4 linked regions of the Homo sapiens genome follow. The protein of the gene in region 2 purifies or fractionates together with the protein of the main gene of each other region. This does not show direct contact. Each region holds a gene or a part of one and is shown on either strand. Other genes may lie near its edges. The genes, in order: SULF2, BRD1, DRG1 and ZC3H15.

Region 1 (8,002 bases), on a different chromosome or scaffold from region 2:
GTACTTTGGTGGACTCCAAAAAGCCACACTGCCTGGTATTCAAACCCTTGTGTGGGCCCCACCTCATGAAACCGGGCTGGCTTTGGGACCTGTTTTGACCAAGAGAAGGTGGCAGAAGTGATGCTGTGCCGGTTTTGCGGTTAAGCCTTAAGAGACCGTGGCAGCTTTCATTTTTGCACTCTTAGAAGTCAGGCTACCCTGAACCTGCCATACTGCGAGGAAGCCCAAGTAGCCATAGGGCAGAGCCCACATGGAGAATAACTGAGCTCCCATCTGGTGACCAGCAAGAGCTGCCAGCCATTTGAATGGGGTTGTTTTAGACCTGCCAGCTGATATCACATGAAGCTGAAGAACCACCTGGTCAAACCACAGAATCGTCCAAAATAAAATGTTGTTACCTTAAACCACTGAGTTTGGAGTGGTTTGTTATACAGCAGAAACACAACCCAAGAATCCTCAGTGACACTGATCAGAGCCCATTCCCCCAACAGAAATGTCACAAATGACTATGAGGTTAAGACTTTCAGCCTCTTCGGCTAATGAACACTTGGAGGAGAACATCATTCATTCATTCCTTTAGTCATTCATTCAAACAGCCAGTAAGCCTAGCACAGATGGTACAAAGATGAACAAGCTTCAGGACCTCCTGTTCTAGTGAGGGCATCACACACAGTGCCTCAGTTTCCTTACTGATAAAGTGAAGATGATATTAGTCCCTGCTTCAAAGGCTTGCTGTGATGATGAAATGCTGGGCAAAAAGTAATCAATAGATATTAGACATTATTATTACTACACACTTGCAATGCACAATGTAAGTGTCCAGGGACACTTGCAATGTCCCTGGAAGTGTAGCCATTGGGTACAAAGTGTCACAACGGGAGACAAACTCAAATGCCTACGTGGGCCAGGCAGATAATGTAAACGGGTGAAGTGGACGCATAAGAAAACTCCACACCCCACTTCCTCTCCAGCTCTCATCTGGCCACTTTTGGTAGAGATGGAACAGAGAAATATTGCTCCACAATGAGAAAAACAGAAGGGAAAGTGCAATGAAAAGCCAAATGAATTGGTTCACAATGTCAGGCTATAGGGGATGGTGGGGACCACATCTCCCCATTTTTCAGGAGAAGCTGAAAATCCAGATTTTTAAAATGTGAAATCTCGTAGTTGTTACAAATCTGACAGCTTTTTAGAAGGTTCAAACAAAACATTTCTGCGAGCTGAACAGAGCCCCTGGTTAGGTGGCCTGTGATGTCCTATTCTACCAGCATGGCAGAGCAAGGAGAGACTTCGTTGTGTCTCTTTCCTCCTTTGTAAAACGGGGTTGGAAGATCCCCACATCGCTGAGTTATTCCACATTCACAGGAGCGCGCACTTAAACCACCACTAGCCTGTACAAAGTGCTCGGTAAATGTGAGCTTTCAGGAGGGTAGGTTGGGGAGTGGAGGTTAAAGAGGCTGCTCTCCTGGGCTGTGACCGCTGTTCTTTCAGGAAGGGACAATTTAGGGAAGGGAGTTGTCTTTTCAAGGGCACATGCAGAAATATTTAACCCAAGAGCCCTCATTAGAATGTCACACCACTGACCTGGAAGACTAGCTTGGCCCCAGAGTCATCAGAAGTGGAGGGTTCCACCAGCCCTTCTGCAAGGCCGTGAGGTCCCTGCCGTGGCATAAAGGGGACGATCCTTCCTCTGCAAGCAATGCTAGCACAAAACCCCAGCTCTGGCACTGGGGAGCAAGTGAGTGTGTATGAAACCAATCCTCCCAGCCACCTGCTTAGCTTTTTGCAAATGACTAACAGGTTTTGACATCCTTGCCCTGAGCAGTCACCTTCGAGCAAACATGCTAGCCAGATGTGCCTGTAGCTCTCCAAGCCTCTTTCTTTTCTTGCTTCCTTCATTCAAAAAAAAATTTACTGAGTATCCAAAGAGTGCCACCCTGGTTCTCAGTGCTGGGGATACAGCGATGAACAAGACAGACAATGTCCCTACAAGCACAGAGCTTGCTTTTTAGTGAGGAGAGAGAAGACAAAGGACAAATAAGCAAACCAGGCTAATTCCAGAGAGTGATAAGTGTTATAAAACATAAAACAGGTTGTCCTTCCAGCATTCTAGGGAGGTGACATTTCAGCTGAGATCCGAAGCATAGGAAGGAGCCAGGTCCTTTCCCAGTGTTTGATTTAGAGGTGAGTGCAAAACCCAACTCCGGACCAATGAAACAGAAAGCAAAGTCTGCTAGGGTGGGAGTGTTCTGGCAAGGATTTTACTCTCTGATTAAAAGAGAGACAGCAAGGAGTCCTGTCCTATAGTCCCACTTTGTAGGGTGATGCGACGTCTGGAGCTGTGGCAGCCATATTGAGACTATGAGGCAACAAGGCCAAAGACATGATGAGGACAGAAGAAGAGGCTTGAAAGATCCTGGGACCTTGGATGACACTGTTGTACTGAAAAACCAGCGCCTGGACTCCCCTGCTTTGGACTTGGTGTTATGTGAGAATTAAATGTTTCTATTGCATAAGCCACTGTCAGTCAGAAATGTGATTCCTCATAATGAAACCATTTCAATTCACATTAAAATGATCAGGACTCTAAGCTACTAAGAATTATAGTAGGCTTTCCTGGTCTCTGAAATATCCAGATAAGTGGCCTGCAATCAGAAGTCTATGGATAGTATCTGTCTCGAGAGCAGACCAGAAATGTGGCTTTCAGATGGTCTGATTTTCACCAAGCAGGAACATCTCCAAGGCTTCTGTGAGCTAACAGTTTTTTCAATCTCTTTTCAAAAAGTTCCAGGCCAGGCAGGGTGGCTCACGCCTGTAATCCCAGCACTTTTGGAGGGTCACTTGAGCCCAGGAGTTTGAGACCAGCTTGGGCAACATAGCAAGATCTCATCTCTACCAAAAAAAAAAAAAAAAAATTAGCTGGGTATGGTGGCCTGTGCCTATAGTCCCACCTACTTGGGAGGCTGAGGTGGGAGAATCACTTGAGCTTGGGAGGTTGAGGTGGTAGTGAACTGAGACTGTGCCACTGCACTCCAGCCTGGATGACAGTGCAAGACCCTGTCTCAAAAACAAAAAAGCTCCTCTTCTCTGGCTACTGGGGTGGGTCAAGTCACCCGCTGGGGTCCTGACCATGAGCCAATAAGAAAAGCTATTGGCCACATTCTTCCCCTAACACATCTGGCTTCCACATGGCCAAACACATCTTTGGTACTATTTGTGGTCCCTGGGGATGGCCCTGTCCACCAACTTACACACACAAGACCTGGCCATAACAACTCTGAGTTTGGGATAGAATTTATCTAAGATTCAAGCTGGGCCCAGGTGTGCAGAGCAGTGGGCCAGGCCTTCTGTAAGATGACGCTCCATGGCAGAGGCCAGGGCCACTGGGCAACGTGTGCTTTGGAATCACATTAAGAGAACGTGGGGAATTCAAAACATTCTGGTTACAGAGAATTCCAAGAAGCCCTGGCCTGGGCTGGAGGAGAAGCTCTGAAGGCCATGCCAACAGCTGTTCCACCCAGAAGGCATCGTGCTGCCTACAAGGCCCGAGATCCCACATGACCTTAAGCAATTTCCCAAGGGCATCTGTGGCAGAGCAATGAATATTTAGCTCTGTCTGTTAATCACTGAGAAACCAGGCGATGAAGAAGGGGAGGCTCAGCCCGAGCCTTCAGGAACTTCTTGGAAATGTCAGAGAGGTGAGCATGTGGGATATGCTAAAAATATTCATCAAATAGATTCATGACAGGCACTAGGGGGAGGCTGGGGGGAGAAAACCACACTAGAAAACAAAACACATTCTCTCTGGATAATTGTGTCCAGTCCCACAGCTTAAAATAACATCAATATGCCGATAACTCCCAAACTTAGGTTGCCAGCCCCGACCGGCTGCAGACATCCACGTTCACCACCCACTGAGCTTTCAGACATCCAGGTGGGGTTCATCTCAAACCCAACATTTCCACGTCGGAATTCCAGATCACTCCTCCTCCCCAAAACCTTCTCTCCTATCTTCCCTATTTAGCAATCACCACGCACCAGGCTGCCTAGTCACCTTTGACTCCTTGGCAGGATACATCATGAATATTTGGGCTGAATCATTTTTCACTGTGGGGTCATCCCGTACATTGCAGGTTAAGCAGCATCCCTGGCCTCTACCCTCTAGATGCCAGTAGCAACCCTTCCCCAGTTGGGACAACCTATACTGTCTCCGGATAGTGTTAAAATGTTTTCTGGGTGTCAAAATCACCCTCGGTTGAGAATCAAAGCCCTTTCCCTCACTCTGTAATCCAATCCACTAGGAAGTCCTGTGGGCCCTACCTCCAAAATACATCTCCAATCCCCATTTCACTCCATCTCCATTGATACCACCACGGTCCAAGCCACTCTCGGGCCCTCTCTGTTGCCTAACAGTCCCGGTGATACCACTTCCATCTGCACAGCACGCCTCTCACAGGAGCCAGCAGGATCTTCTTGAAACACAAATCATATCATTCTCTGACTTAAAACCCTCCAATGGTTCTCCATTTTATTTTTTAATTTATTTTTGAGATGGAGTCTTGCTCTGTCACTCAGGCTAGAGTGCAATGGCACAATCTCAGCTCACTGCAACCTCCACCTCCTGGGTTCAAACGATTCTCCTGCTGCAGCCTCCCGAGTAACTGGGATTACAGGTGTGCGCCACCGTGCCTGGCTAATTTTTGTATTTTTAGTAGAGATGGGGTTTCACCATGTTGGCCAGGCTAGTCTTGAACTCCTGACCTCAGGTGATCCACCCGCCTTGGCCTCCCAAAGTGTTGCGATTACAGGCATAAGCCACCGCGTCCAGACAGTTATCCATTTTATTTAAAATAAAGTCTAAAATTTCTTAGCATGGCCTGTATTTCTCATCTCTGACGTGCCCTCCCCCACTTACTCCTGACCCTCTACCCTAGTTGACTTTTTTTTTTTTTTTTTTTGAGACAGAGTCTGACTCTGTTGCCCAGGCTGGAATGCAGAAGTGTGATCCCGGCTCACAGCAACCCCTGCCTCCCGGGTTCAAGTGATTCTCCTGTCTCAGCCTCCCAAATAGCTGGGACTACAGGCACGTGCCACCACACCTGGCTAATGTTTGTATTTTTAGCAGAGATGAGGTTTCACCGTGTTGGTCAGGCTGGTCTTGAACTCCTGACCTCCAGTGATCTAACTGCCTCAGCCTCCCAAAGTGCTGAGATTTCAGGCGTGAGCCACCACGCCTGGCCTACCCCACTTGACTTCTATTTGTGTTTGGGGCAGGTGTCTTGGACAGGCCCCTCCCACCGCCTCTGGGCCTTTGCACTAGCTGTTCCTTCTACCTGGCATGCTCTTCCCCCAGATCTTTCCAAGGCGGACTCCTTCCTAAAATCTAGGTCACAGTTCAAAGGTCACATCCTCACAGAGGCCTCCCTGACAGCCTGCCTAAAGTTGCCTCCCACCCCATCACATCATGCAGTCATTTTTCTTTTAAATTTTTTTTTGAGACTGAGTCTCACTTTGTTGCCCAGGCTGGAGTGCAGTAGTGCGATCTCAGCTCACTGCAACCTCCGACTCCTGGGTTCAAGCGATTCTGGTGCCTCAGCCTCCTGTGTAGCTGGAATTACAGGCAAGCACCATCACACCTGGCTAATTTTTGTATTTTTAGTAGAGAGAGGGTTTTGCCATGTTGGCCAGGCTGGTCTCAAACTCCTGACCTCAAGGGATCCTCCCACCTCGGCCTCTCAAAGTGCTGGGATTATAGGCATGAGCCAGCACGCCAGGCCTAGAGCATTTTCCCCGCCTTCTGACAGCCCCTGCATTAGGCAGGAAGACAAAGAGGCCCACGCTCCAGAGCTCTCTTCGCCAAACCCTCCTGCTGATATAGAATATACACATGACATATTGGTCATGCCCCCCAGCATCCAGGACCCTCCCTAGAAGTTTGATTCAACAGGATCTGGTCTTTGCCTTTTTAAACAAATACAGCCAGATGATTCTCATGGTGGGAGGTTAGACAAACACTGCCCCTGGCCCCCCGAAAGCACAGGATCAAGGCCAGGCCCCATCCTTCAGACAGTAAGGCAGAAAAGTCAGGCCTTTGATGCCTCCTGGCCCTGGTGGAAGGGAGAGGCATTGCCCAGGCAGCGTGTTTCCCCAGTCTCCACCTTGGCCAAAATGAAGATGGGTCCATCTGGCCAGCATTGCTCACATTAGTGGCCCATCATCGCAGGCACTGGCCATCTGCCTCTCCAGCAACCGGGCTTCCCTTTCACTGGGGACTCCCCGTGCTGTTTTATTCCAGGCTTTGGGGTCTCAGCAGTCAGCCTCCATCCAGCTCCAGGGAGAGGCCTGTGAGCCTGGCTTAAGCCAATTGTTGGCAACTCATTTCCTTAGCCAGTGACTGGTTTGGACAAAAAACAGTCCAATCAGAGGGAACCATGGGGCTCAGGTGTGCATTGCCAGATCAGAGGCTTGTTCTTTCCTTTTGGGCTTAAACCAGAGGGGATGAGACCCCTCTGCTCCATGACATCTGTCCTGACACCTAAGTTATGGTAACAGTCAATGCCTACTGAAGGCTCACCTGGGTCAGACGCCCTGCTAAGCACTTGACATTGATCATCTCATTTCATGCTTACCACAAGCAGGAGACAGGTGCTATGATCATCATCATTTGTTGGATGTGAACATCAAGGCACAGAAAGGTTAAGTAGCATGCCCCAGATCCCACTGCTGGGCAGGGAGCCAGGCAGTCTGGCTCTCCTAGCCACGGTGCCCACAGCTGCCAGGGACTGCCCGCCCCAGAGCTGGAGAGACATCAGCCTCATGGAAGGCAGAGGAGCGGTGGATAGGAATGGATTCTCATTACAAAATCTGAGCTGTGGGTCCAGCTGTGTCTGAAGCTAGAGTTAGTCACCTTAAGACTTTTGGTTATGAAAACCAGTAAGTCCACTTCTTTTCTCCTTAAGCTGGCTTGAGTTTTTTTCTTCTCTTTTTCCGTTGCTTGCAAGAGAAAGGAACCTGATTACTTTACAGTTCTTCTAGGCAAGTACCCCTAACTGATACTCCATTTGCAACTTGCACACAGCAGCTGCTCAGTAAACACCAGCAGATACGGATGGACTGCTCTCCCTTCCGGTCCATTCACTGCTGGATCTGTACCCTGACACCCAACTGTGGCCAGCCCAGCGCTTCTTCCCCTTTAGGCTCCAAGTGAGGCCTCGTTCCCTAGCAACCACCCCAATTAGGCAACCATGCCATTTATCGGGATGCCAATTAATTATAACGATCTTAATGCCCTCCCAATTAGACAGTGCCTTCAATCCGGCTGGGCCAGGGCTGTCTGTAGATCTCCACCAAGGCCCATTCCAAGGAGGCCCAGAGAAAGCAGGTTTCAGGGAGGGCCCCCTCACCTGCAGATCAGCATTGAGAGAGGCCCCCATCTTCCACATCCGCCCAGGCCTGACACAGAGCACCCTGGCACCACCCCCAGGGCCAGGCCATCGAGACTCCATCACCAACCACAGGAAGGTCTCACCTCTAGGAGAGCTTTTGCTCTCTGGCCACTGTGCTCTGAGTGGGCTGAAATCTTCACCATGGTTCACCTGGCTTTTCCATCAGCTGCATTTGATGTTTCCCTTTGCATTTTGACTGGGGGAGGGGACAGTGTGTCTGCTCATAAGCAGAAGAAAAAGCACCAGGCAGACACATGTTTTCCTTGGGGCAAAAAACCTCAAATACAAACCCGGACTCTCTGTCGGAACAGTGGGGGTTTATGGAAAGTTAAGGGCCTTTTACTTTGCAAAGTTTGACTGTCTGAAGGTGTTTTCTTCCCCTGCATATGTGTTTCTTCTACATCTGGGACAAAGGCCAAGGTCATGGAGGAGAGTCCAGTGGTTCCAAGTGGACCCCGGAGCTTGAGGGCCTCTTGAATCCCAGCTCTACCTGTGACCAGCTGTAGGCAAGTCACAATCCTCTCTGTGCCTGTTTCCTCATCTTTAATATGGCAACA
Region 2 (8,002 bases):
GGCTGCAGTCCAGCCTGCAGTCTCAGCGAAGCTCACAGCAGGTACGTGGCTCGTGGCCCCCACAGCCTTTCTGCGTCTCTCACCCCCACCCTCCAGGGAGAGGGCACCTGGTTCAGGCTGGTCACGGTGCTGCCCCCTGGGCTCAGGCTCCCCGTTGGGAAGCCTCCGTCTCGTCCAGCCCTGGAGCTGTAGGAGGAGTCGGGTGCACTGGGCTCTGGATCTGCGACTCGGGGGGTGATTCTCATCCATGCCTGTCACTGGGTGTTTCTTCCGTTTTGAGTTGCGCTCCCCCGCCCTGCCCTGCCCGCACACACGCTGATGGGCAGTGGCCAGCTCTGGGGACTGGGGATGCTCAGGGATGTGTTATGCTGTGGCTGCATGAGCGTCCGGGCTGGGGACAGCAGGAGTGGGACCCGGTGAGCACACCCGGGCCATGTGGGTGGGGGTCTGTGTGCTGGGCCTGGAGGGTGGGTTTTGGAAATATGTGAGGAGTGGTTTATTTCGAGGGCCTTGCTCTGAAGGTTGGTTTAGCTGGGACTGTGGTGGGGTGGGGAGGGCTCGAGAGAGCTGAGAGAGTGGGAGGGAAGGAGCAGGACTTTTCCTTTTTAAAAGAACAAACCCAAACTCTTACATTTTGATAGTAGGTTTGAGTTTATAGACTCATCTGATACTGTGAAACAGTTCTGAAAAAATGGGTTTACAGAGTGAAGTAGCTTCTGTGAGATGCACAAAAGTAATTGAAAACACAAGCAGCTCTGCACACGGCCCAGGACCTGCGGCCAGCGCCCTCTGCCCACGCTGCCTAGTGAGGAGCCGCTGGTCTTTTGGAAGAGCTGTCTGCTGCTGGCGTCGCGTGGCCTGAGTGCCTCTTGGAATTTCCTCATGGTGCTTTTCACTGCCATCCTGGGCACGAAGCGAAACCATCCTGCTCTGCTGTGAGGTGGTGACTTGCTCACAGGAAGCTTGAGTCTACAGGGTTCACGGTTGGGTCCCCGTGCGGTGGTGCGGTGGCCGGTGCTGTCTCTGCCTCGCAGACTCTGCCTCTGCAGCGTGAGCCCTGTTCAGTCACCTGCCGTGGCTGCCTTGTGCTCCAGGGAACTACAGAGTCTGGTGCTCTGGTCTGGCAGGTGGTGGTTTGTGGGTCTGATTTGGTGTGGTGGGGTCCAAAGTTTTCTGACGGCCTTGGTGCGTCTTGGCTGTGGAATATTCCAGGTCTCCCGTGCCGTCCACCTGGGTTGCCCCACTGTGTGTCTGTCCATGGAACTTGGGGCTCCCCGGGCAGGTCTGTGAGCCAGCCCCTCTCCAAGTGAGATCCTCACGTGTCCACAGAGTTGAGGCTTCAGTGAATGTCTTTTGGCTGTTGAATGAGTTAACCGCATCTTCCGTTCCATGATGTGACTTGGCTTTCCATCTCTCCTCTGTCCTCACCTCGTAGCCTCCAGGGCTCCTGGAAAGGACAGCACGGTTTGGGGGGCTCTTAAGAGGCCAGAGTCAGGAAGTGGCTGAGCGGCGGGAAGCTCTGGGGGCTGGAGGCATTGGTCTCGGCCCCCGCGATGTTGGGGAAAGGAAGAGAGTGGAGGCATTGGTCTCGGCCCCCGCGATGTTGGGGAAAGGAAGAGAGTGGAGGCATTGGTCTCGGCCCCCGCGATGTTGGGGAAAGGAAGAGAGTGGAGGCATTGGTCTCGGCCCCCGCGATGTTGGGGAAAGGAAGAGAGTGGAGGCATTGGTCTCGGCCCCTGCGATGTTGGGGAATGGAAGAGAGTGGAGGCATTGGTCTCGGCCCCCGCGATGTTGGGGAAAGGAAGAGAGTGGAGGCATTGGTCTCGGCCCCCGCGATGTTGGGGAAAGGAAGAGAGTGGAGGCATTGGTCTCGGCCCCCGCGATGTTGGGGAAAGGAAGAGAGTGGAGGCATTGGTCTCGGCCCCCGCGATGTTGGGGAATGGAAGAGAGTGGAGGCATTGGTCTCGGCCCCCGCGATGTTGGGGAAAGGAAGAGAGTGGAGGCATTGGTCTCGGCCCCCGCGATGTTGGGGAAAGGAAGAGAGTGGAGGCATTGGTCTCGGCCCCCGCGATGTTGGGGAAAGGAAGAGAGTGGAGGCATTGGTCTCCGCCCCTGCGATGTTGGGGAATGGAAGAGAGGCTTTTTTGGGAGGAAGTTGAGGGTTCAGATCTTGGGTCTTATCTCGGGGCTGGACAGAACTCCAGGTAAGTCACAGAGGAGCTGTTGAAGGGCAGATTCCATGGAAAGTGGGCATGGATGTGGCCAAACGGGACGTCCAGCGGTGGGAATCATCATTTCTACTCTCATAAGCTGGGACACGAGGGCCAGAATCCCTGCAGTAGCAGGACACGTGGGCCAGTGGGCAGGGGCCACGGGGACCCAGGCAGCTGGGGGTGGCCTGGGGCGTGGTGGAGCCAGGCAAGGGAAGGGGGAGGGTTGCAAAGAAGAGGTGACCCGCTGGAACCTGCCAGCTGGGCCCCCTCTGCTTCATCGCTGCCTGTTAGGCCTCACGTCCTGTTGTGTGCAGAATACGTTTGTAAGGAGAGAACATCCCCACAGCCCGGCCAGAGCAGCTCTTCTGGCAGAGGGGGCAGCTTCTCGAAGTCACCTGGGAAGGAGCAGAAGGAGCTGCCTGGACTTGAGCCGCAGCAGAGCAGTCGGCGTGGAGAGCCTGGAAACCTGCCTCTGTGTGAACGGGCTATTGGGAGAGACTGTGCTTCTGCCTTCTCCTGGCCAGGGATGGCCACGGCTTGGTGTGGTTTCATGGTTTTGAAGCTTTGGAAGTACCTGATGCATTTGATTCCTCTGTGTCTCTGTGTACCTGCCCCAGCCTGACCCTGTGGTGGGGGCAGGTGGATGAACTGGACGGGGTCTCTTGAGAGGCCAGCAGGCGCCGAGGGTGCTGCAGCGATGGCGGGTCTGTGCTGGCTGCGCATATAGGCCCTGGTTTTTGTTCTGGTGTGTGTGGCCGTTGAAGGCCGCAGGGAGAACGGGGGCGGCAGCTTAGCTTTATAAAGGGTGAGCAGCGATTTGTGTGTATGCTGGTGGCGTCCCACTGTCTCCTGCTCCCGTGGCCCACCCTTCCTGTCCTGGGAGCGCATCCTGCAGCTTTCCCAGTGTCTGTCCTGTGGCATGCTGGGCGCTGCTGCCCACATCGTCCTTGCTGTGCTGCGTGTGTGGCCTCTGCCAGTCCCACGCACCTGCTGGCGGCATTGGGCCCAGTGGCAGGAGCTGGGTGCTGTTGCCAGGAGGCCTGGGGTCGGCCACTCTGTAACACTGTGGGCCCTCACCCCAGGAGCTGGCCTGTCCTCCCAGCAGAGGCGATTTTAACCTGACCGTCGCCTAGCCCTGCCCTGTGTCTCCCCCATGTGTCTGGAATGGACGCGGAGGCGCTCAGCTTCTTCCCGGCAGTGGGGATGCCTGAGTGCTTCTTCACTTCTGTCCTTTCTCGTGGAGCCTCCCACTGTTGATTTTTACATGGGAAATATCGAGCCCTTGAGAGCCGAGTAAGGAACCTTGATCCTTCTGAGTGGATGAGGCTGCATGTGTCATGGGACCTTGGGCCCAGGTGCTGTCAACGGGGCCCCTGCCACTGCCGATGGCGTTTGTTAAACCAGGTTGGGGAGCAGACTAGTAAGTTTGCTTAGCAGCCAGTGCGTGATAAAGGGCTTCCTGGTGATGAGGAGATTTCTTCCGCTTCGTAACAGATTCCCAGGCCAAATGTCCTTTTGGCCGAGGTTTTCAGAAGTGTCGATTGCAAGCTGAGGGACAGGCAATACTCAGATGCTCCGGGGAGCTTGGTTTTTGGAGCCCACATTTTCCTGCCTTTGCTTGAGTTGATGTGGATCTTGTTACTCTTAGCCCCGATTTCCTGCCTGAGGGTGTTCAGCAGCATTGAGGAAAACCCAGAGATCCTCACTTCAGGGGACATCAGCGCAGCAACGCTCTGCCTCGCCATGGAGAGGCCTGGCCTTGGGGGTGGGGGTGCGGGGCTCGGCCTCCCTCCTTGAGCCTCCTTTTCTGAGCAGTTTGGAGTCCGGGGTCCTTGCATCTTGTAGTCCAGCAGTCTTTGCCTTCACACCCTCGGTCCTTTGAAAAGCTATGACAGTACCCTGAGGTGGGCAGGTGGGAACCCGGGGACAGAGGCGTTGGGGGAGAGGAGGGTCTCAGGGCTGTGAAGCATGTGCCAGAAACTGATGGCCACGGCTGTCCTGAGGCTGGCAGGGCGCGCGTGTCCTGCAGCTGTGGAGGATGACAGGTGTTGGGGGCCCACTCAGGCCAACTCCCTCGTTGACTTCCTCTCCCCTTTGAGGTAGGGTCAGGGTGCCCCGGCACTGTGACGAGCAGGCCTCATGCGGCCAGGCCTGGGGGACATGGTGAGGACAGGGCTGAGGGCAGACCCAGGTGGCCTACTCTCCTGCGACCATCTGTGTCATGGCCTTTGCAGGGCTCTGATTTTCTTCTGATCACCCTGGTGTGGATGTTGGCTGGGTTGAGGCTGGCGGCCTGTGCTGTCTGGCGCACTCTTCTGTCCACTGAGAAGGGAGCAGGTGCTATCAATGGAAATGGGACCCTGGCTGTGGGGAAACGTGTGTCGGGATGGAGGCGCTGTGCAGGGCAGGGCAGCAGGTCGGCTGTGTGCCAGGCCCCCGTCATGCTCTGTCCAAGCCAGGATGGGCCCAGCATGTGGTTTTCTGTGCACCTGGTTTCTTTCCAGCCGCTCCCTCCATTCCCAGCTGTCCTGGAGGTGGGTCCTCAAGGGTCCCCCATTCTGTCCTGGCCCCGCCTTTGTGGGCCTTTCTGGTTCTGTGAAGGCCCCCCCCGCCGCCAGCTTGCGGAGGCCTCTGTCCTCTCTGGAGGGTGGAACCTGTGCACCGGGGCCAGCCCCCTGCTCACCTTGGCCTGGCGGTCCCCTCTGTCCCCTCCATCCCCTCTGTCTCCTCTGTCCCCTCTGTCCCGGTGCTGTCCTGGGGCTCTCTAGTGAGGGTGGTCTGTTGTCCTCCCCAGGATGGGCCTGCAGGACCCCTGACGTGGATGCCTCTTGGGGTCTCACCTGCATGGTATCTGAGGCCTTTTGCAGAAGGAGCCTCTGGGTTTGACTGACGGAAGTGTTCACTGTTCTCAGAGAGAAAATGATGAGGAGATGAAGGCTGCCAAAGAGAAGCTGAAGTACTGGCAGCGGCTGCGGCACGACCTGGAGCGCGCTCGCCTGCTGATCGAGCTGCTGCGCAAGCGGGAGAAGCTCAAGCGTGAGCAGGTGGGGCTGGGCCTGTCCCGCGTGGAGTGCACCACTGGCCACGGGGCGTGGGTGGGACGCTGGCAGCTCCTGCAGAGGGTGGGCTGCACCCGGTGGGTCCTGGCCCACAGCAGTGCCTTGCTCAGCCCAGGCTGGGTGCCTGGCTGCCATGGGTTGCAGAGCCCTAAGTGGAGGCTGCGTTGTCCTATGCCTGGACGGAAGCACAGGAGCCTGTGGGGGCTGCTTGTGGCTGTGGGGCGCGTGGTGGGGCTGAGACGCATGTGCGGCTCCCTAAAGCTGAGGCTCTGCTGGGCCCCCCCAGGTGAAGGTGGAGCAGGTCGCCATGGAGCTGCGGCTGACCCCGCTGACGGTGCTGCTGCGCTCAGTGCTGGACCAGCTGCAAGACAAGGACCCCGCCAGGATATTTGCGCAGCCCGTGAGTCTGAAGGAGGTGGGTGTTTGCGGCGCTCGTCTGTCCTGCCGCATGTGTGACTGTGGATTTGTGCTGCCGTTTGACCGGGAAACGTGTGATTGGCTAGAGTACATCCCTTGTGTTCTTAATTCTCGTTTTTATTTAACGTATTTGTTTTTAAATTATAAAAGTGATACATTTCATTGTAAAATACTGAAAGTGCAGTGGGCAAGAGGCCCTGTGCAGACAGTACCCTGGGCTGTGGCAGCATCCGCCCGGCACCCTCCAGCGTGCTTTAGCTGAAGGAGCTGGGGTCGGGAAGGTCCCTGCAGTACTTGGGTCTTATGTCTGTACCGTCTGCGTGTCTGTGTGTGGCTCTCAGATAGGATGGGCTTGTGGGTTATATGGAATAATAAATATAGAGTCAACTAATATCCTGTTTTAGTTTGTAAATGATTCTTTTTCCTCCCTAAAATTAGGTACCAGATTATTTGGATCACATTAAACATCCCATGGACTTTGCCACAATGAGGAAACGGTTAGAAGCTCAAGGGTATAAAAACCTCCATGAGTTTGAGGAGGATTTTGATCTCATTATAGATAACTGCATGAAGTACAATGCCAGGGACACCGTGTTCTATAGAGCCGCGGTGAGGCTGCGCGATCAGGGAGGTGTTGTTCTGAGGCAGGCCCGGCGCGAGGTGGACAGCATCGGCTTGGAAGAGGCCTCGGGGATGCACCTGCCTGAGCGGCCTGCTGCGGCACCGCGGCGGCCTTTCTCCTGGGAAGACGGTAAGAACTGGCGCCGTGTCCGGAGGAGGTGGAAGACGCTCTTTCTAGCAGACTCTGTCCTGCTCTGTGTTGCCAGCTCCCTATCAGCATGGTCCGGGAGCCACTAGCATGCAACCGCATACATCATTTACATTTTCTAGTAGCCTCACTGAAAAATGGAAAAGAAGCAGGTGGAATTTACTTTAATAATATGTCTTATTTTACTCAGTGTATGGAAGAGTTGATTTCAACATGGGATCGGTAAACGTTACTGAGGATATATAAGCTTTTCACCTTCTTTGCCATCTGATGTGTATTTTACGCTCAGCACCTGTCACTTCAGACTGGCTGCGTTTTGGGTGCCCACCAAGAGGACTGTGTGGCTGTGGCTCCCTATGGGGTGGCCGGTCTCGACGATGCAGACCCAGAAAGCAGCTTAGTTGGGGGTTTTCATCCAGAGTGGGCCTCGGCTAACTTCTGAGGGTGGCGTGAAGCCGGAGGATCTCTGGCTTTGCCTCCAGCCCTTTAACTTCGTGGTTTGCGCATGTTGTAGAAAGGGCTCTGGGAGTGTGTCCACGGCCCACCTGGACTCCAGCCTGGGCTTGTGCTTCTTGGTTGCCCAGGCACGTGTTGCAGCCATGTGTAGTCACCTGCACCCTTCTCTAGACTGGTCCTCGGAAACCGGGGCTGTCCCCTGCACCCTGCTTGTTAGTCGCACCTCTGGGATTGTCTGTCGAAGGGTGTGTCCTGCCCACATGGGTTGTCAAAGCACATAGAGCTCCAGCACCTCAGCTCCAGCTCTGAGCCACAAACTGAGCAGAAATCACGGTGTGTTTGGCTTATTTGTCTAAAGGTCCCATATCCCTGATTTCTTGGCCTACCCTTTCTCTTGATGAATCACTGACCCGTGCTAGGTCGCTTCTTCTGGGATGAGGCCTGGCCCTCTTCCTCTCTTCCACGTTCCCGCCATCGCGGGGTCCACGTTCCCGCCATCGTGGGGTCCGCTTCCCGCCATCATGGGATTCAACCAAGCTGGGCCATCGTTGCTTCGCCCTCTGTTCCCCTCATGGCAGCAGTGCTGGGCTCCCTGCTTCCCGTGGGGTCCCGCAGCACTCGGCACCTGTGAGGATTGGAGGATGGGCTGTACTCTTTTAAAGACTGGGGATAGGGCCAGGTTCTGTGGCTCATGCCTGTAATCCCAGCACTTTGGGATACCGAGGCGGGTGGATCACTTGAGGTCGGGAGATTGAGACCGGCCTGGCCAACATGCAGAAACCCCGTTTCTACTGCAAACACAAAAAATTAGCCGGGCATGGTGGCGCATGCCTGTAATCCCAGCTATTTCGGAGGCTGAGGCAGGAGAATCGCTTGAACCTGGGAGGTGGAGGCTGCAGTGAGCGGAGATTGTGCCATTGCACTGAAGCCTGGGTGACAGAGTGAGACCCTATCTCCAAAAAAAAAAAGAAAAAAGAGAGAGGCCGAGGCGGGTGGATCACGAAGTCAGGAGGTCGAGACCATCCTGGCTAATGTGGTGAAACCCTGTCTGTACTAAAAATACAAAAACAAAATTAGCCAGGCATGGT
Region 3 (8,002 bases), about 18 Mb from region 2:
GGCGGAGGTTGTAGTCAGGTGAGATGACACCACTGCATTCCAGCCTGCGTGACAGAGTGAGACTCTGTCTCAAGAAAGCAAACAAAAAAAAGAAGTCAGATCATGTCATTTGTTGGCTATACCTTCTGATGTTTTCCCATATTATTTGGGATGAGACCCAAAGTCTTAACATAGCTTACAAGCTACGGTAAATGACCTGGCCCCTGGCTGCCTCTCTGACCTCCTTTTCTATCACTTCAGTCACTGGGCTTAAGATATCACTGGCCGTCCGGGTGTGGTGGCTCACAGTCTGTAATTCCAGCACTTTGGGAGGCCAAGGTGGGTGGATCACCTGAGGTCAGGAGTTCAAGACCAGCCTGGCCAACGTGGTGAAACCCCATCTCTACTAAAAATACAAAAATTAGCCAGGCATGGTGGCAGGTACCTGTAATTCCATAGTCTGTAATTCCAGCACTTTGGGAGGCTGAAGCAGGTGCATCACAAGATGAAGAGATCGAGACCATCCTGGCCAACATGGTGAAACCGCGTGTCTATTAAAAATATAAAAATTAGCTGGGCATGGTGGCGTGTGCCTATAGTCCCAGCTACTCAGAAGGCTGAGGCAGGAGAATCGCTTGAATCCAGGCGGCAGAGGTTGTAGTGAGCGGAAATTGCACCATTGCACTCCACCCTGGTGACAGCAAGATTCTGTCTCAAAAAAAAAAAAAAAAATAGCTGGATGTGGTGGTATGCTTCTGTAGTCCCAGCTGTTCGGGAGGCTGAGGTAGGAGGTTCTCTTGAGCCCAGGAGGTCAATCTGCAGTGAGCCATGATCATGCCACTGCACTGCAGCCTGGGCAGCACACAGACACCCTGTCTCAAAAAAAAAAATAATAATAATAATAAGGCCGGGCATGGTGGCTCACACCTGTAATTCCAGCACTTTGGGAGGCCGAGGCGGGTGGATCACCAGGTCAGGAGATCGAGACCAACCTGGCCAAGGTGGTGAAACCCCGTCTCTGCTAAAAATACAAAAATTAGCTGGGTGTGGTGGTGCGCGCCTGTAGTCCCAAGCTGCTCGGGAGGCTGAGGCAGGAGAATCGCTTAAACCTGGGAGGCAGAGGTTGCAGTGAGCCGAGATTGCACCACTGCACTCCAGCCTGGCGACAGAGCAAGACTCTGTGTCAAAAAATAATAATAATAAAAATAAAATCATGGCTGCTTGGTGGCTCATGCCTGTAATTGCAGCACTCTGGGAGGCTGAGGGGGGTGGATCACTTGAGATCAGGAGTTTGAGACCAGTCTGGCTATCATGGTGAAACCCTGTCTGTACTAAAAATACAAAAAGTAGCTGGGCATGGTGATGCATGCCTGTAGTCCCAGCTACTTGGGAGGCTGAGGCAGGAGAATAGCTTGAACCCAGGAGGCGGAGGTTGCAGTGAGCCGAGATCACGCCATTGCACTCCAGCCTGCATGACAGAGCAAGACTCCATCTCAAAAAAATAAAATAAATAAAATAAAATCAGGCTGGGCATGGTGGTACATGCATGTAATCCCAGCACTTTAGGAGGCTGAGGCGAGCGGATCACCTGAGGTTGAAAGTTTGAGACCAGCCTGACTAACATGGAGAAACCCTGTCTCTATTAAAAATGCAAAATTAGCTAGGAGTGGTGGTCCATGCCTGTAATCCCAGCTACTTGGGAGGCTGAGTCAGGAGAATTGCTTGAACCCAGGAGGCAGAGGTTGTGAGCTGAGGTCGCACCAATGCACTCCAGCCTGGGCAACAAGAGTGAAACTCCATCTCAAAAAAAAAAAAAAAGTCTACCACTGAGGCTGGGCATGGTGGCTCACGCCTGTAATCCCAACACTTTGGGAGGCCGAGGTGGGCAGATCATGAGGTCAGGAGTTCAAGACCAGCCTGAACAACATGGTGAAATGCTGTCTCTACTGCATCTCAAAAAAAGAATGAGGGGTCAGGGTCAGGTGCAATGGCTCATACCTGTAATCCCAGCACTTTGGGAGGCTGAGGCAGGAGGATCACTTGAGGCCAGGAGTTCGAGACCAACCTGGGCAACATTGCAAGACCCTGTCTCTACAAAAATAAAAATTAAAAAAAAGAAAAAAATAGCCATGTGACATGGCACACATGTGTAGTCCCGGATATTCAAGGAGACTGAGGCAGGATGATCAGTTGAGCCCAGGAGGTGGAGGTTATAATGAGCTATGATCATGCGACTGCACTCCAGCCTGAGTGACAAAGCGAGACCCTGTCTCTTCAAAAAAGAGAATTTTAAAAAATGAGGAACTAGAAAGTTGATGGAAGCAGAATATTTTTTTTTTTCTGAGATGGCGCTCTGTTGCCCAGGCTGGCTGGAGTGCAGTGGCATGATCTCGGCTCACTGCAACCTCTGCCTCCCTGGTTCAAGTGATTCTCGTGCCTCAGCCTCCTGAGTAGCTGGGATTACAGGTGTCCACTACCATGGCCAGCTAATTATTTATTTATTTATTTATTTTTGTAGATGGATTCTCGCTCTGTTGCCCAGGCTGGAGTGCAGTGGCGCAATCTCAGCTCACTGCAATCTCTGCCTCCCGGGTTTAAGAGATTCTCCTGCCTCAGCCTCCCAAGTAGCTGGGACTACAGGCATGTGCCACCACATCCGGCTAATTTTTTGAATTTTTAGTAGAGATGGGGTTTTACCATGTTGGCCGGGATGGTCTCAATCAGCTCACCTTGTGATCCTCCTGCCTCAGCGTCCCGAACTGCTGGGATTACAGGCGTGAGCCACTGCGCCGGCCAGTTTTTCTATTTTTAGCAGAGACAGGGTTTCACCATGTTGACCAGGCTGGTCTCAAGCTCCTGACCTCAGGTGATCTTCTCGCTTCAGCCTCCCAAAGTGCTGGGATTATAGGTATGAGCTCCCGTGCCCAGCTGGAAGCAGGATTTTTGACAAATGAATTTTAATATAGAAAAAGGCCAGATACTGTGACTCATGCCTGCAGTCTCGGCAGTTTGGGAGACCAAGGCAGGAGGATTGCTTGAGGCCAGGAGTTAAAGGCTACAGTGAGCTATGATCATGCCACTGCACTCCAGTCTAGGCAATAGAGCGAGACTCTGTCTCTGTCAATATAAATATATATTAATAAAAATAAGATATGCAGGCACAAAAGACTACTTTTTTTTTTTTTTATACAGATTGAATCTTACTTTGTTGCACAGGCTGGTCTCAAACTCCTGGCTCCAAGCAATCCTTCTGCCTCAACCTCCCAAAGTGCTAGGATTACAGGCATGAGCCACTGTGCTAGGCCAAAATAATATATTTTATATGATTCCATTTATATGAAATTCTAAAACGTGCAAACTATGGTGGCAGAAAGCAGATCAGTGGTTGGCTGGCAATAGTGGGGAAGATTGAAAGGAGGCACAAAGGAATGCTGTAGGTGATGGAAATATTCCATGTCTTGATTGGTTTGGTGGTTACACAGGTATATACATTTGTTATTGAACTGTGTGCTTTAACATGGATACAATTAAAAAAAAATTGTACCTCAATAAATTTGGTTAAAAATTTGCTAACCAAGGGTGGGCGCAGTGGCTCATGCCTGTAATCCTAGCACTTTGGGAGGCTGAGGTGGGCGGATTGCCTGAGCTCAGGAGTTCGAGACCAGCCCAGGCAACATGGTGAGGAAACCTCGTCTCTACTAAAATACAATTAGCCAGGCATGGTGGCATGTGCCTGTAGTCCCAGCTACTGGGGTGGCTGAGGGAGGAGAATCGCTTGAACCCGGGAGGCAGAGGTTGCAGTAAGCCAAGATTGTGCCACTGCACTCCAGCCTGGGCAACAGAAAATGTGTCAACTCTTGGGCAAATAGGTGCTGATTTCATGGCATACAAAGCAAATTGACTTCTGGTATAAATCTTCTGTAGCTATAAGAACTTCACGTATGCATGTATGTATTACAGAAAAATCCTTTGACACTTAAATGTAGGGGGAAAAAACACCTCTACTTGAGTATTTGGGTTAGTTAAGGCTTTATTGAACTTTCTTGCGTATGTTTTTTTCTTACTCTTCAGTGGCCCGAACCTGTAACTTGATCTTGATTGTTCTGGATGTCCTGAAACCTTTGGGACATAAGAAGATAATTGAAAATGAGCTGGAAGGCTTTGGCATTCGCTTGAACAGCAAACCCCCCAACATTGGCTTTAAGAAGAAGGACAAGGGAGGCATTAATCTCACAGCCACTGTAAGTGGGGAATATGACATGGGGCAGGCTGCTGCAGGAATTGGAATGGGGAGTGGATTGGGGTGCATGGACCCTGACATTGGAAAATTTCCTGGCTTTTCCCTGCACTAATTGAGATAACACAATGACTTTATAATGACTGACAAGAAAAACTTCAAGATTAGGATAGGAGCCAGTCTCAGACTTACCTTTGCTACTTATTTCCTCTTTTGGATTATCTATTGGGAATGATATGGGCGTGTGGACCAATATTATGCTTGCATAAAGTAGATGGCCGCCAATATCTTCTGTTTTCATTCATTTAACACAAATTTATAGAGTGCCTACCACGGGCCAAGCATTATTTTAGGCTCTGGGCAGGAATGGAAGAGGGAATAGTGAAACCCCCTGCTTTTATATTCTAATTGGATAGAATAGAAAACAATGTTAATGAGTAAAATATAATGTATTCGTCAATGATAAATATAAGAACACAAAGTAGGGAAAGGAGATAAGAGTGTTGGTGTGAGGGTTGCAGTTTTAAGAACGTTGGTCAGGGAAGTCTTTACTGAGGTGACATGAAGGTGTGAACCAAGTGGATATCTTGAAGAAGAGCATTTGCTTCATGCCTCAACCTCCTGAGTAGCTGGGATTACAGGTGCCTGCCATCGCACCCAGCTAACTTTTGTATTTTTAGTAGAGACGGGGTTTCACCATGTTGGCCAGGCTGGTCGGTTTCATTCTGTTGCTTAGGCTGGAGTACAGTGGCACAATCATAGTTCACTGTTAGCTCAAAACTCTTGGGCTCAAGTGACCCTCCTGCCTCAGCCTTCTAAGTAGCTAGGGCTAAGTCACATGCCTCCAGGCTTGGCTAATTTTTTTTTTTTTTTTTTTTTTTGGTAGAAACGGAGATTTGCCATGTTGCCCAGGCTGGTCTTGAACTTTTGGCCTCAAGCTGTCTCCTGCTTCGGTCTCCCAAAGTGTTGGGATTACAGGTATGAGCCACCATACCCAGCCATGTTTTTTATTTCCTGAGCTAAAAAAAAAATGAACTCTTATTACTAAAATGGTAGGACTTTTGGTAGAATAGATTTGGAGGGAAGGAGAAGATCAGGATGTTAAATTTTAGATGCCAGTGAGACATCCAGGTATTTCAGTCAAGAGGGCATGTGGGGTAGGCTGGGCATGGTGGCTCATGCCTGTACATCTATAATCCCAGCACTTTGGGAGGTTGAGGCAGGAGGATCACTTGAGCCCAGGAGTTCAAGACCAGCTTGGGCAACAAAGTGAGACCCCATCTCTATAAAAATAATAAAGAAGGCATGAGGAATTATCTAGGCTGGATATATAAATTTGGTGATTATCAACTTTAATGTCATGGGCCTAACTGAGATCACCAAGGATGTGAGTATAGATAGAAAAGAAAAGAGAGCTGGGTGCAGTGGCTCACACCTGTAATCCCAGTACTTTGGGAGTCCGAGGTGGGCGGATCACAAGGTCAAGAGATGGAGACCATCCTGGCCAACATGGTGAAACCCTGTATCTACTAAAAACACAAAAATTAGCCGGGCATGGTGGCACGCACTTGTAATCTCAGCTACTCGGGAGGCTGAGGCAGGAGAATCGAACCCAAGAGGTGGAGGTTGCAGTGAGCCGAGATGACGCCACTGCACTCCAGCCTGGTGACAGAGCGGGACTCCGTCTCAAAAAAAAAAAGAAAGAAAGAAAGAAAAGAAAAGAGAATCGGCCAGGCACGGTGGCTTACGCCTGTAATCCCAACACTTTGGGAGGCCGAAGTGGGCAGATTACATGAGGTCAGGAGTTGGAGGCCAGCCTGACCAACATGGCAAAACCCTGTCTGTACTAAAAATACAAAAATTAGCCAGGCGTGGTGGCACGTGCCTGTGATCCTGGTACTTCGGAGGCTGAGGCAGGAGAATTGCTTGAACCCAGGAGGCGGAGGTTGCAGTGAGCTGAGATCGCGCCACTGCACTCCAGCCTGGGCAACAAGAGCAAAACTCCGTCTCAAAAGAAAAAAAAGAAAGAAAAGAGACTCAGAGAAATAAGACTTCTTAGACCAAGAGAGAGAAGGAAAACTGAAAGAGTTTGAAATACTGGAAGCCAAGTAAAGTGTTTCACATAGGAGTGACCAATTCTGTCAAATGCTGCTTCTCTGTCAGAATTGAGGACTGAGAGTTTCCTACTAAATTTAACACTTCAGAGCCCAGATGATTTGACTGGCATAGGTTTCAGCTGTCCTGCCCAAAACATCTTTCCCATTATCCCGTCTTAATATTCAAATTTGAACATTTAAGATTATTTCTGTGTTAGTTTCAGTGCTGCCATAATACGGTACCACAGATGGGTGGCTTAAATAACAGAAATTTATTTTTCATAATTCTAGAGGCTAGAAGTCTGAGATGAAGTTGATGGCAGGGTTGATTTCTTCTGAGGCTTCTGTCCTTGGCTTACAGATGGGACTTCATATGGTGTTTGCTCTGTGTGTCTGTGTCCTAATCTCCTTTTCTTATTAGGACCACCAGTATTGGATTATGGCCCCACCCTAATGACCTTATTCTAATTTGATTACCGCTTTAAAGACCCTATCTCCAAATACATCACATTCTGAGATACTGAGGTTAAGACTTCATGTGAATTATTTGGTGGGGGAAGGAGGAACACAGTTCAGCGTGTAACACCTTCCTTGGAGTTTGGACATTTATTTCCTACTAAAAGTCAGTGACACTCATCCCGGATGTATTTAGTAATGAGTTTGCATCTTAGCTAGAATTTTCCAGGTACATGGATATTGGTACACTTGACAAGTATTTTTTTTAAATTTTGTGCTGACTAGTCATCTGCTATTCCCTTTCAGTGCCCCCAGAGTGAGCTGGATGCTGAAACTGTGAAGAGCATTCTGGCTGAATACAAGATTCATAATGCCGATGTGACTCTACGTAGTGATGCTACAGCTGATGACCTCATTGATGTGGTGGAAGGAAACAGGTACTGACTGAGTGTGCAGTCTGTGCCTGACTGAATTGGAAGCCTTGTGATGGAAACAGTATTGGATCTTGAATCTGGCAGAAGTTTATCTTAATTCCAGTTGTCCTACTGTCTTTTTTTTTTTTTTTTTTTTTGAGATGGAGTCTCACTCTGTTGCCCAGGCTAGAGTGCAGTGGCGTGATCTCAGCTCACTGCAAGCTCCACCTCCCAGGTTCAAGAGATTCTTCTGCCTCAGCCTCCCGAGTAGCTAGGATTACAGGTGCGCACCACCACGCCCAGCTAATTTTTGTATTTTTAGTAGAGATGGGGTTTCATCATGTTGGCCAGGCTGGTCTTGAACTCCTGACCTCAAGTGATCCGTCTGCCTCGGCCTCCCAAAATGTTGGGATTACAGGCATGAGCCACTGTGTCCAGCCTGTGCTACTATCTTAAATGATAGTGGGCTTTGGTTTCTTTTTTTTTTTTTTTTTTGAGATAGAGTTTCGCTCTTGTTAGCCAGGCTGGAGTGCAGTGGCGCAGTCTCGGCTCACTGCAACCTCCACTTCCAGGTTCAAGCGATTCTCCTCCCTCAGCCTTCCTGAGTAGCTGGGATTACAGGCCTGTGCCGCCACGCCTGGCTAATTTTGTATTTTTAATAGAGATGGGGTTTCTCCGTGTTGGTCAGGCTGGTTTCGAACTCCTGACCTCAGGTGATCCACCCCACCTCGGTCTCCCAAAGTGCTGGGTTTACAGGTGTGAGCCCGGCCTTTTTTTTTTGAGACAGAGTCTTACTCTGTCACCCAGGCTGGAGTGCAATG
Region 4 (6,858 bases), on a different chromosome or scaffold from region 2:
AATGCAAATTAAAACCTGTATATATGTATATGGGAGGTCTTCAAAGAAGTTATGAAATAGGGTGACACTATCAAATTCATACATTTGAAAATTTACTTTTGGAGTAATGCATTGTGAAGAAATTAGATCAAGAGAAACAGTTGCAATAGTCCAAGTAAAAATGTGGCCCTGAAATAGGATAGTAAAGTAGGAAGGAAATAATTTGAAAGAGGTTCCTTAAGATATAGAATCACTATGAATTGACTTGACTGGATTTGGAGGTTGAAAAAAGAATCAAAGATGACTCACCAAAGTTTCTAGTTATGATACCTAGATGGAAGGTAGATAGGTTTTTTTTTGGGAGGGGGGAGGTATACACATAAGACTATGAAAAGTTCGAAGGCACATAAGAGTAGAGAGGGAATATGAAGGTGGGGAATAGGAAAAGCTGGCCTAAAATGAGGAGTAAGAACTGAAATAACAGAAGATAAAAAGCAGATGTTATAGGCTGAGGAAGATGTGGAATCCCTTACACTCCCTTTAGAAAGACATAAGAAGCCATTAAAAAACTATTACTAGGGAAATGACATGGTTGATTTAAATCATTGGAAATGATTTAAGTGTCAACGAGGCAAAAAATATTTGGAAATCGTACATCTTGGTTTCTTGACAAATGCCATAATAACTATTATCATAATGGTACCAAGAAATATTTCAAATAGAAACAGAGAATTCACCCACTTAAGTCACCTACTTTAAGAAAATTTTACATCAGTGTAGGCTGGAGTGAAAGTTTACAGTATTGAAATTCAAACTGACAAGGTAAAAGACATTTTATATGCTTTACTGAAACACTAGCAAATCTTTTGTAATATCTTAATTCAGAGGGAAAAAAGTCTTAAAGGAGACTGACTATATGTCAGAATTTTGAAGCATTCACTATTTAAATCAAAATACTTCCTAATATGTACTGCCTTAACCCATAAAACAGATCAGCAATTTATATGGCCAAATGAGTCCTATCTTTATGACAAAAATTTACTTAGATAAACTAGTAGTCTTGTCTCTGCCCACCACCCCATAGCACAGTTTGGTCTATTATCAATCAGAGTCTGTCTTAGTTTACTAGGGCTGCAATAACAAAGTACCACAGACTGGGTGGCTTAAAAAACAGAAATTTATTTTCTCATAGTTTTGGGTGCTAGTAGGCTGAGATCAAGGTGTCAGCATGTTTGGTTTCTTCCAAGGCTTCTCTCTTGGCTTGCAGATGGCCACCTTCTAGCTATGTCTTCAAATATGTTTATGGAAATATTGTTCACAGAATCTATAGGAAGCCTGGAAAATCAGGCTTGGGAAATAAAAGAAGCAAGAAATAATAGCAAAGAATGAAGTAAGGACTTGTATGGATCTTGCCACACTGGCCTGCCGCCACTGGACTGGTAATACCATACATGCACTCTAATGCCCTGAAAAATTCCTACACTTTGAGTCTTTGTCTTGTTTTCTTGAGATTAAAAGCCTGAGACATAGGGCTTCCTTCCTATACAGAAGGACATTAGAATGCTGGATAGCAAACAATAATTTCTATTCAGTACAAAATCTACTGCCTTAATCTATTACATCTGATACATTCCAATAAATGTAAAGTTATCCAAATGGCTATATCCAAGGCAGTAAATTCACAGCCTGTCTACCAAATCGAAGCAGTCAGGTTTGACAGTTTTTCTTTTAGTTCTTTTACGGTGGGCATTTACCTCAGGTTTAACACTGTTCCCACAACTTCCTAATGTATTTCACTCATCCTGACGCTCAAGTTTATAGCCCTGCTTTCTTGGGTATATGAATTGTAACCCTTGGACTATGCCTTCTAAGCACTGTTTTGTGAAAGTTTCGTTTGAATTGTAAGGTCAATAAAAATAGCAGTAGAAGACATAAAAGTCCCAGCCCTGCTACCATTTGCTATTTGAGACCAGGAAAAACCATGTACCTTATTTCAAAAAGTAGTGAATTCAATGAGTTGGACTTCCTTATTTCTAAAATGTATGAAGAAATAGTGTACGAGGGAGAGTGCTATAAGAGCATGTACTATATTCAGAAATGTGTATTTTCCACTTGAGGCAAGAAAGGATCTTTGTTCTCTACCTGGGCTACACTTCAGAGGAAAAAACCGAAAGCAAAGGTCAGGAGACAGAAGAAGTTATGAACCATGAAACTGGAGCCATTATCATAACATTATGAGACTCTAGATTCTTTGTAACTTCCCCATATTTGTTACTTATAATTCATTTGCCTCATAATAATAATCAGTAAAATTACTCAAAATCAAAGGCCCAAAGGGCATCTTTGGGGCACTAAAAGTAGGAAGTTAAGACAACTACATTCCATATGCAAACAAAGTCTCAAAGGAGACGATCCCCAAATAATCAAATGGATAATAATACTGAGTAAAGAGGGGGCTGGCTGCATCCCTCCATCCTCTGACAAGAACTATGACAATTACAAAAAATAAAGATGAAAATATGTAAAAGGGGGGGAGCCCATTAACCTGCCAATATGAGCCCAAATGAAAAAAAGTGTGTCAACATACACCTGCCATTCTCGACACAATTCTTTTTAGTAGCTATCACATTTCTTCTACACACACACATACACACACAAAACATACTTGGGGTTCCTTGACATTATCTTACGTAGAAAATTACTAAGCAAATAATCAATTTGACTAAGTAGGGGGGCTTATCGTTTTCTCCCTATTCAAATTAATGAAAAAGATAAAAAAACTTTTATCTATAAAGATGATTCTTGGTTCCACAATGCTTCTTAACAGAAATAGTTTAAACAATAATCATTTTAAAAAATAACAGCTAAGCATTGTACATTTTTAAAAAATAGTATTTTCGTTTGTACAAATATCAATGGGTCCCATTCATCATTCAAGTACCTTTTCAAACAGGATCTAAGTTTGTAATGTTAGGTAATAGGCATATAGGCTGAAGCCGGACTGCCAAGATTACAATTGCTGGCTCTGTCCTTAATATAACTTTGGGCATCTTTCTTCCTTTCTCTGCTTCATCTATAAAACGAAAACAGTAACAACTCCCACCTAAGTGTCGTTGTGATAACTAAATGAAATAGTGTGTGTAATGTGCCAAGGAATTTCTGGAGCTACCAAGCACTTAAACTAAGTTCTAACTAAGTTTGGTTACTTTCACGTTATAAAGGAATTTTTAGGAATCACCTAGGCACTCTCCTAAAGTCTCAAAATAACTTAATACAGTACTTCTAAGGAGTTCAAGTGCCTCCTTATCTGGGACGCCATCTCAGATGCTCTTCAAATGAAAGGGACCCTGCAAATGAAAGTTAACTTTTTCCATTTTTTAAATAATCCTTCGCAGGAATCTGAAGCACGCGACACTCACGGGCCATTCAGCTCCGCCTCTCCAGGGAACAAGAAGGTTAACTGAGTAACGTGGTCACGGAGCAACCCCGAGTCGCTGCGGCTGCTTAGTAGTCACTCAGGATGGGGATGGTACAGGGGACCATTAACTGGCCCGGCAGGAAAAGTTTCCCGGTGAGGTGACGATGGACAAGAGTCGCCCCATCGTAAGCGAAAGTGGACTGAGAGGAAGCACAAACGCATGGACTCAACCAGCTCGCCCAGATTCACCCTCAGGCCTTTTGCCATCTGAAAAGGGCCTATCGGATGCGCGACATCACGAGTGACGCGTAGTCATTTTCCCACGTCCCGTCCCTGCCCCCTCCTAGTGGGACGCAGTGGGCGCGCACGCGCAGCTCCGCTTCCGGGAGCCGCTCCTCGCTACCCACTATGCTCTGCGACATCGACCTGTCGCAAAGGCCGCGTTTGCGGGGCCAATGAGCGACTCGCTTTCCGTGCGGTGCGGCGAGTGAGGCCCCGGTCTTCCTCCTCGTCCTGCCGCAGGGCCAGAACCCCTGACGGTATTCAGCTGCGCGTAAGTCTGGCCGGTGCCATCTGTCTCCGCAATGCCCCCCAAGAAACAGGCTCAGGCCGGGGGCAGCAAAAAGGCGGAGCAAAAAAAGAAGGAGAAGATTATCGAAGTGAGTACCCACCCCTCCCCCACTCACGCCGCGAGCCCTCCGGAAAGCCACTTCCCCGCTCCGGGCTTCCCTGGGAGCCGGCTCGCTTCCTCGGGCCACGTGTTCCTCCCTTAGGCCTGTGTGGCCCACTGCCCCTTCTCCAGCCCCTGATGACGCTAGCTCTCTCATTACTATAGTGACGCTGCTGGCGCCCCCGCACCTGGGCTTTGCCTCTCCGCCCACACGCCCGTGTTCACCCACCCATGCACCCGGGTGCGAAATGACCCCTCGGGACTGGCACAGGGTTTTATCCTTCGCTAGTCCTCTCAGAATTGAGGAGATTTTCCAAGGTTATGTGTGAAGAAATACGCTGAACGGTCTCGGGCCAGCGTCTTTCTGGAAGACCGACTCATGACGAGTCTTTGTGTTCGTTATTTCTTTACCCGTCACCCAGGGATGGTACTGTTAGTTCTTTTGAACCAACAAATTACGACTTGGTGGCTTTTTCGATCCACCTCTGAAATGTTTAAAGTCCCATAAAGAATGGAAGGACTTTCCGTCACAACCCAGGGTCTTGAACGCAGAGCTTGGTACTTACATTCTGAAGTGGATTAAATAGGATAACGCCTTAAAAGAGATTAGGTTTCAGTGTCACTAATTGTGTGAAGTCCCGTAACCCAGTTTGAGATATATGTGTGTGTGTGCGCGTGTATATATGTATACATCTATGTGTGTGTATATGTGTATATATGTGTGTGTATATATATTCGTTTAACACATTGAGCCTGTAGCCCTTTAATGGCCAAGGAACGCTATTGACGTTCTTACATGTTGTGCACTTGTTTTCCAACAACTGAATTGAGTTTCCTTAAAAGATGAACCATATTTGACATTACGTAAACATACCATACAGACCCCAACGAGGTATTTCTTCCCTCGATTTCTGCTATTAATCCTCCTCATAATTAAATAGGACCTCTTGTACTTTGGATATAATTAGAAAAAGCCATGACCATTTTACCGCATAAGGTGTAAAGTCTGCTCATTGGATTTAAGAAAATGCTTAAGAATTTTGCTATACTTGGCCAGGTTCCAACTTTGGAGGAGAACTGGTATTCTTATTGCCAATTTGTACAGTTTAAAACTGTCATGAAGTACTATAGCCAGACACTTAAAAACAAAATATTACCTTCACATCTGTGTTTTCTATTACCTTATTTGAACAATCTGGATTCGTGGCACTTAGGTAAATTTCAGGGGTTGCTGATCGGATGGCATTCACTTTTATGAAAACCAAGGACATTTTAGGGATGTCGTTTTCCTCGAGATTGGACCCTGATACGAAGTAAAACTCCCATTGAAATTAAATGTTATGTAATAATTTAGACAATTTAAATTATACTTCATGCATTGTAGAGCTTTCTCTATATCTAATTGTTTTATTTTTAATTAGTAGGACTAGTATTCTTATTTTAAGGAATTATGTGTGAAAGTTGTTTATAGTATCCATCAACTTTTAAAATGATGCATATGTTATGATTCTAGTCATCTTGTGACGAAATTATTTTTTAGCTAAAGAGAAAGCAATTTTAGTTTCAATAATGAAGGTATCTCCAAAGAAAAATGCAAAATAAGACAACTGCACTTTTTAACTAAAAATATTAACAACAACAAAGTGGTGAAATTAAGCCCGATTTTGTGTTTTCTACATTTAATATATATTATTTTTTTAATTTATTTTTTGTTGAGGTATAACTTATGTAAAATAAAATGTACAGGTTCTAGATGTATAGTTCTATGTGTTTTGAGGAATTTATTCACCCAGGTAGCTGCCACCCTAATTAAGACTTGAAACATTTCTATCACCCCACTAAATTTGTTTTGTGCCTCTTTCTATTTAATTCTTTCCACACGTGCAGCCACTAATTTTTTTGACAGGATAGATTAGTTTTTACCACTCTAGGAACTCATATAAATTATACAGTAGGTAGCCTTTGTGTCCTTCTTCTTGCTTTCACACCATGCAGTGTTTTTGAGATCCATGCATGTTGTGTATATTTCTAGTATGTTCCTTATTGCTGAAAAGTATTCTCTTGTATGGGAACCATTACAATATGTCACCTTTTGTGTTTAGTGTCTCTCTCTACTTGGAGGAACCAAAAGACGTTATAATTGACGCTTGAAAAACAAACTTAGGATTCCAAAATGGGTTAGAGGCGGTGTTTGTTAAAATCTCGGCAGCCAGAATGGATTATTTTGTGGCTAATGGAGTCATCTGTAGGGACCTTAACCTTGGGGCATACGCTGAGTTGGCATGAGAGTGTCCAATCATCTGTATACATTAGAGCTACAGGATAGGCATCATTAGGGGATCTGGGTGGTGTGTCTATTTCTCTGGGAAGGACTGGTCTTGACTACACCCTCAGTTAATTGCAGTTGTTGAGCTTCTTGCTTTTGCTGAATATGCTTGCATTTTGCTTTCTTGTGTTTTGTGCTATCATTCTTTAACCTAACCTGCAGTACCGTTGGATGTATGTCTTTGAGGCCATTTCTTTCTGAAGACTGAGGTTTGGGTATGGGTTCTTAGTGAACAAGATGTTCAAATATTCCATTTGTTTCTCAGTGATCATAGTTTGTTTCCTTTGAAATGTGTCCACTTGCCTTTAAGAAGGTCCTCCTAGCCTGACATCTTGTAATCTAGATGTTCTTTTATGTTCTGGTCCAGGGACCTGATGAGCTTTTTCAAAAAATACTGCAACAAAGTTTGTCAGACTCATGTGCAACATTGATATTTGCTACTACTGGAGAGGTACAACAATATTT

Evidence for each region.
Region 1: the proteins of BRD1 (region 2) and SULF2 purify together in Homo sapiens (affinity purification with mass spectrometry; 2 studies listed by BioGRID and IntAct, with this or other methods). This does not show direct contact.
Region 3: the proteins of BRD1 (region 2) and DRG1 purify together in Homo sapiens (affinity purification with mass spectrometry; 2 studies listed by BioGRID and IntAct, with this or other methods). This does not show direct contact.
Region 4: the proteins of BRD1 (region 2) and ZC3H15 purify together in Homo sapiens (affinity purification with mass spectrometry; 2 studies listed by BioGRID and IntAct, with this or other methods). This does not show direct contact.

Annotation. Positions count from the first base shown.
Region 1 is NC_000020.11:47,775,077-47,783,078, forward strand, and holds part of SULF2 (extracellular sulfatase Sulf-2 isoform a precursor), read right to left. Parts: intron 4,579-8,002; exon of another isoform or gene 1-4,578. UniProt on the Homo sapiens protein: Exhibits arylsulfatase activity and highly specific endoglucosamine-6-sulfatase activity. It can remove sulfate from the C-6 position of glucosamine within specific subregions of intact heparin.
Region 2 is NC_000022.11:49,796,243-49,804,244, reverse strand, and holds part of BRD1 (bromodomain-containing protein 1), read left to right. Parts: coding exon 1-41; intron 42-5,125; coding exon 5,126-5,257; intron 5,258-5,558; coding exon 5,559-5,687; intron 5,688-6,127; coding exon 6,128-6,440; intron 6,441-8,002. UniProt on the Homo sapiens protein: Scaffold subunit of various histone acetyltransferase (HAT) complexes, such as the MOZ/MORF and HBO1 complexes, that acts as a regulator of hematopoiesis.
Region 3 is NC_000022.11:31,416,206-31,424,207, forward strand, and holds part of DRG1 (developmentally-regulated GTP-binding protein 1), read left to right. Parts: intron 1-4,050; coding exon 4,051-4,220; intron 4,221-7,074; coding exon 7,075-7,205; intron 7,206-8,002. UniProt on the Homo sapiens protein: Catalyzes the conversion of GTP to GDP through hydrolysis of the gamma-phosphate bond in GTP. Appears to have an intrinsic GTPase activity that is stimulated by ZC3H15/DFRP1 binding likely by increasing the affinity for the potassium ions.
Region 4 is NC_000002.12:186,482,402-186,489,259, forward strand, and holds the start of ZC3H15 (zinc finger CCCH domain-containing protein 15), read left to right. Parts: upstream 1-3,858; 5' UTR 3,859-3,981; coding exon 3,982-4,056; intron 4,057-6,858. UniProt on the Homo sapiens protein: Protects DRG1 from proteolytic degradation. Stimulates DRG1 GTPase activity likely by increasing the affinity for the potassium ions.